Regions from separate parts of the Homo sapiens genome. Here region 2 is linked to region 1. Evidence: fine-mapped expression QTL. A gene starts in region 1. The other region holds a variant in brackets. All regions are shown on one strand. Distances are between the middles of the regions. Region 1 holds the start of ABHD17C (abhydrolase domain containing 17C, depalmitoylase). Region 2 overlaps ABHD17C (abhydrolase domain containing 17C, depalmitoylase).

Region 1 (2,905 bases):
TTTAAAGGATTTTCGCAGAAAAATTCTTTTTTTAAAAAAAAAAAAAAAAAAAAGGAAATGCAAACCTGCAAAGCTAGAATTGGGCTTTATGTGAAGAGTTTCACCAAGTGTGAAAACCTTCAAAACAGACTTCAAATATGCAATCTGGACAGGCTTTGTTACCAGGTTTTTAAAAATCAAGTTTGAATAGTTCAAAAACAAGTAAAATTGTTTTAGTGAAGAAATGGCCTTTTAAAACCCAGGTCCTAGCTGGGCAAGGTGGCATGTGCCGGTAGTCCTAGCTACTTGGGAGGCAGGCCGGAGGGTCATTTGAGCCCAGGAGTTGGGAGTCCAGCCTGGACAATACAGTAAGACCCTGTCTCTTAAAAAAGAAAAAATTAAAAGCGAGGTCCTGAAGGTTAATGAAATCAGTATCGGCAATTCATTTAGATGACGGTGCTCAAAATATTCGTCCTGTGGAAAGTCACAACGAAAGGTAAAATTCTCAGGACATCTGTGAGTTAAAACAACAGACCCAGCGTAGGGATTGTGCCAACCTCCCAGTCTCTAGCTGCCCTGCTGGCAGTCCAGGAAGGGTATCTCCTGTCAGTTCCTGAAAGGGAATTCTTCAGCTGCCAAATCAGGCGGGAAAAAGGAAGTATAGAAGGCTCTGTGGAAACTGGCACCAGAGCACAGTTTCAAGGCACCGAGAGTTATATTTGAAAAATCATGTAAAGGTGGCTGCCAAGATTACAGTAGATTTAAAGCAGTATAAGAATCGTTCATGACTAAGACCACTGAAAAATCCTGGACCCAAAACAACTCTAGAGACACAAACACTGTAAACGATACCTAGTATATACTTACTACCGGAAAATCTGCCACACGTGGGATTAGAAATGACAACCTCAACATGGTTTGTTGCTAAATACAGTACCCTCCTGTTCTAACAGCTGACTTTTATAGATACAGAAATGTACTAAGGGTAAAACCATGCCCTTAGAAAGGAAACGCTGTTGCTACCTATACAGAAACAGCCTCTCCTAATAAGAAACACACTGATGACCACCCTATCCCACAACCCCGGTACCCCTTACGGTGCTGAGAACTTTTGGTACTGAGCCAGTTCAGAAAGCAGCACACACGAGAGCCAAATATTTCGGGCACATTCCAACTCTTGTCCACCCCTTAGTTTCCTTTTCAGTAGACTCCCAAGAACCTCCATCCACGGGAGAAACCTGGATTTGGGGGAGGGAATCCCAGGGGGAGGGGAGGGGAGCGGTCCACCCCGGGACACATGCACCCCCTCCAGGGTCCCCTCTGCAGATCGGCCCAGCTGTCCGGGCGCAGAGCCCCCAGCCCCGGCACCCAGCTTCTCCGGGCCCCGGAGCCGCCTGGAAGCCCCCGTCGGCCGCAGGTCGAGAAGGTGCTTCCCAGGCCGGGGAAGGTGCCCGCGCCCTTGCCCGCAGCGCCCCGCCCCGATGCCCGGCTCTGCGCCGCGTCCCAGCGGCGGCGCCGCCGCGCGGTAACCCGGAAGTGGCGGCGGCGGCGGCGGCGGCGGCGGGCGTGCGGGAGCGGGAACGGGAGCGGGGGGCGGCGCGCACGAGCCGGCCATGGACGCCGCCGCCGGCTTTGTGTGCCGCGCGCGGGCCCGGGCCGCCCGCGCCTCGCCTGGGTTCCGGGGCCGCCGCTGACCCGCCCGGGCTCCGAGCGCCGCGCCCGCCGGGCCGGCCCCGCCTCCTGCCCTCCTCCGCCTCCGCCTCCTCCTGCCGCCGGGCGGGCGGGCTGCAGCCGCCCTCCGCGCTCGCCTGCCAGCTCCCTCGCCGCGCGTCCGTCCTCCGTCCTCCCGGGCCAGCCAGCCAGCCAGCCAGCCGGGCCGGCGGCGGGCACCAGGCCGTCCCGATGCCCGAGCCAGGCCCCAGGATGAACGGCTTCTCGCTGGGTGAGCTGTGCTGGCTCTTCTGCTGCCCGCCCTGCCCGAGCCGCATCGCCGCCAAGCTGGCCTTCCTGCCGCCCGAGCCCACCTACACGGTGCTGGCGCCGGAGCAGCGCGGCGCCGGCGCGTCCGCCCCGGCCCCGGCCCAGGCTACCGCCGCCGCCGCCGCGGCCCAGCCGGCACCGCAGCAGCCCGAGGAGGGCGCGGGCGCGGGGCCCGGTGCGTGCAGCCTGCACCTCAGCGAGCGCGCCGACTGGCAGTACTCGCAGCGCGAGCTGGACGCCGTCGAGGTCTTCTTCTCGCGCACGGCCCGGGACAACCGGCTCGGCTGCATGTTCGTGCGCTGCGCGCCCTCCAGCCGCTACACGCTGCTCTTCTCGCACGGCAACGCCGTGGACCTGGGCCAGATGTGCAGCTTCTACATTGGCCTCGGCTCCCGCATCAACTGCAACATCTTCTCCTACGACTACTCGGGATACGGCGTCAGCTCGGGCAAGCCCTCCGAGAAGAACCTCTACGCCGACATCGACGCCGCGTGGCAGGCGCTGCGCACCCGGTGAGCCTGCCGGGGTCGCCAGGCCTGACTTCCAGCTGTGGGGAGGCGGGGTGGGGGTCTCTTGGGGCCCCTGGGGCGGCCTGCCAGGAGAGGGGCCCCTCCTCCGGGGCTGAGGGCCAGCGGAGAGCCCCTTGGCCGCCGTAAATTCGCTTTTCTTGTCCCACCCTGGCTTGCTCCCACCCTCTCCAAAAACCGCGCCAGCCTTCAGGTTCCTGGAGAGCTCGGACTCAGAGAATTTTGCCTGCTTTGGCTCGCCTGTGTGTCGCCGGCCCACCGGCTGGGTCTTTTGTGGCTCCGGTCACCGCGAGTGGCAGAGTGTGGGTGCTTAAGTACCGGGCAGAAAGAAACAACTTGGTTCGAGTTTCGTTTGTACGAGCTGAAGTGACCTTGGGCAAGGCACATGGGTTTCTAGACTCAGTTTCCTTCCCTGTAAA
Region 2 (2,905 bases), 26 kb after region 1:
GGCCCGGCTAGTCTTGAACTCCTGGGCTCAAGAAGCCCTCCCACCTTAGCCTCCCAAAGTGCTGAGATTACAGGCGTGAGCTACCGCAACCAGCCTCCTTTTCTTTTTGTTGTTTAGAAAAGGATCGTGGGGTTTCATCATTTGCTCAGATGTTTCTGTCTTCTTTGTTACACTGTCTTTTGCATCACACTCTCCCTTGTCTTTTGGAACCTTTCACTTTCTCCCAATTTAATTTTCTGCTTCCCTGCCCAGGACTCAGGGATCACCTGAGGCCTTTCCCCTTTCTTGGTGGGCCCCCTGTTTTCCAGTTTCTACTTGTTCTTTCTTGGTTCTCTTTCTAGTTTTGCTAGAGGAAGTTTGTAATATCTTCAAAGGAATGGAAATGTAGGAGGTAAACTTTCTAGAAACCACTTGATGGATCCATGTCTGAAGGTCAGTTGACTTGAGAATGTAGAAGGCATTGTCCTGTAGGCACCTGGAATGCAGAGCCTGGTGCTGGACTGGTTCTGGTTTCTTGAAGCTGGCCTGTTTTTTCTTCTAAGGAAGCTTTTAGGATTTTTTTATATATATTCTTTGTGTTCTGAAGTTTTACAAAAATATTCCAAGGGAGGGTCTTTTAAAAATGATTATTAATGGCCGGACGCAGTGGCTCATGCCTGTAATCCCAGCTCTTTGGGAGGCCTAGGCAGGCGGATCACCTGAGGTCAGGAGTTTGTGACCAACCTGGCCAACATGGTGAAACTCCGTCTCTACTAAAAATACAAAAATTAGCCAGGCGTGGTGACGGGTGCCTGTAATCCCAGCTACTTGGGAGGCTGAGGCAGGAGAATCACTTGAACCCGGGAGGTGGAGGTTGCAGTGAGCCGAGATCACGCCACTGCACTCCAGCCTGGGCAACAGAGTGAGACTCTGTCTCAAAAAAAAAAAAAAAATATTAATTTATGTTGAACACTTAATGGGGGCCCTTACCGACTGAAGACTTGGATCCTTTGGTCTCAGAGATTTTCTTTAATATTTCTTTCAAAATTTCTTTTCCTACATTTTCATAGGTGTCTTTTATTACAACTTCTATTATACTGACCTCTGGATTTTCCTTGTCTCCCATATTCTCCATCTTTTTGTCTACTTTGTTTGATATTCTGAGAGGCCTCTTCAACTTTATTTTTGGGACTGTGAGTTAGATTTTGTGTTTACCCATCATTTTTTGTCTTTTTTTTTTTTTAACTCTTTGACTTCCCTTTTTCATAACATCCTGCTCTTGTTTTAAGGATATATTTTCATAAATCCAAGAGTATACTTATTTTTTTAAGCCCTATATGCTGGTCCCATACCTGTCTGAGTCCTCTGTGAAAGATACTTGGGTCTTTGATGCTGCTAGCTTTCCTTGTATGTTGGTAGGTTAGCTTGGTGATAAAGAGCCTGGTCACTGGCTCAGATTTGGGCTGAATCTTGGCTTTTTCATTTCCTAATTGCAAAGTACTTTAATAATAATGATATCCAACTGCTAGAGGTATTGAACATTAAATCATTTAGTACATGTACTTTTAGAATTGTGCCAGGCAAATAGCAAATGTGCCGTAAATGCTATCGTCATTGTCAT[C/T]GTCATCACAGGCAAAATAGCAGATGTGCCATAAATGCTATTGTCATTGTCGTCACTTTTGTTCTTCAGTTTACACTGAGGAAGGAAAGATTGGGTAACCAGGTTGGGTTTCCTCTGTGCAGCGTAAGGTGGTATTCCTTGCCAGGCCTCTCCCGCAAGAGGAAATTTGGCTGGGGGCTTTCAGACACACGCAGCCAGTAGGGCACTGGGGGCCTCCTTCCTTGTTGTGGTAGACTTTGTTTCTGGAGGGAAGGAGGCCCCCCAGTGCCAGCATAAGGATGACTTTCCTTGAGAGCACCAACTAAAAGTCTTAGCTCACCCAGGAGGGCTTTATACTTTGTGTTGGGAAGGGAGTTGGATTTGTATAACTTTCTGTTCAGACTTCCTATAATTTACCTATTTTTAGTTGCATGCTAATTTTGAGTCGGAATCCTCTCTGGGATTCAGGTGGTTTCCATCTTCCCTGCAGCCCTGTTATAGCATGTCCTGGACAGAGTTCTCCACTCGATTTTATCCGTCAGTTTGTTTCCACACACCTTCAGTTACCGAGAAGCGCACTGGAATTCCTTCTGATTTTTCCCTGTCTTCCTATTCTCTCTGCTGTTGTAAGTTTATTTCTTTCTAATTTTTATGCTGCTTTTCCAGTGATGTTTGGATTGGTTGAAAAGTGAACAGATGGGCTCAGGTCATCATTTTGAACTAGAAGCCAAAGGAATCTTTTTTTTTTTTTTTTTTAATGTTTCCCCTTTATCTTCACTATGAGAAAGGAATCTTTTTTAAAAGAACTGCTTTGTTGCGCTGTGATTGACATACAAAAAGCTGTAGATATTTAATATATACAACTTGATGTATTTGAAGTTTACACCTATGAAACCATCAAACTGTCATCACTGTTGTTGCCATAAACTTATCCATCACTCCAGAAGTTTTCTCTTGCCCACCCTTTTTTTTTTTCCTTTTGTGGTAAGAGCACTTTACATGAGATCTTCCCTGTTGGTTAATTTTTAAGTGTACAACGCAGTATTGTTAATCATATGCTCTATACTGTACGGTAGACCTCCAGATATTTATTTCATATAACTGAAACTTGGTACCCTTTAACCAACACCTCCCCATTACTGTCTCCCCTAACGCCTGGCAACCACCATTCTACTCTGTGCTTCATGTGTTTGCCTATTTAGATTCCACATGTAAGTGAGATCACGTAGCATGTGTCTTTCTGTGTCTGGCTTATTTCATGTAGCATAAAGTTCTGCAGGACCATCCATGTTGTTGTAATTGGCAGGATTTCCATCTTTCTAAGGG

What was found.
Region 2: its variant is fine-mapped to the expression of ABHD17C in whole blood (INTERVAL, PIP above 0.99). The same link has a PIP of 0.9 or more in neutrophils.

Annotation. Positions count from the first base shown.
Region 1 is chr15:80,693,549-80,696,453 of GRCh38, forward strand. It overlaps ABHD17C (abhydrolase domain containing 17C, depalmitoylase), which reads left to right and starts at 1,762. Exons shown (of 3, transcript NM_021214.2): 1 at 1,762-2,471. The coding sequence starts at 1,882. RefSeq lists silencers at 480-774, 1,236-1,395, 1,416-1,525, 1,546-1,965, 2,056-2,105 and 1 more and an enhancer at 2,296-2,365.
Region 2 is chr15:80,720,005-80,722,909 of GRCh38, forward strand. All of the region lies in intron 1 of ABHD17C (abhydrolase domain containing 17C, depalmitoylase), which reads left to right. Among named protein-coding and RNA genes, the nearest start is that of ABHD17C, 26 kb to the left of the region's middle. The variant C/T (reference allele first, on the strand shown) is at 1,601.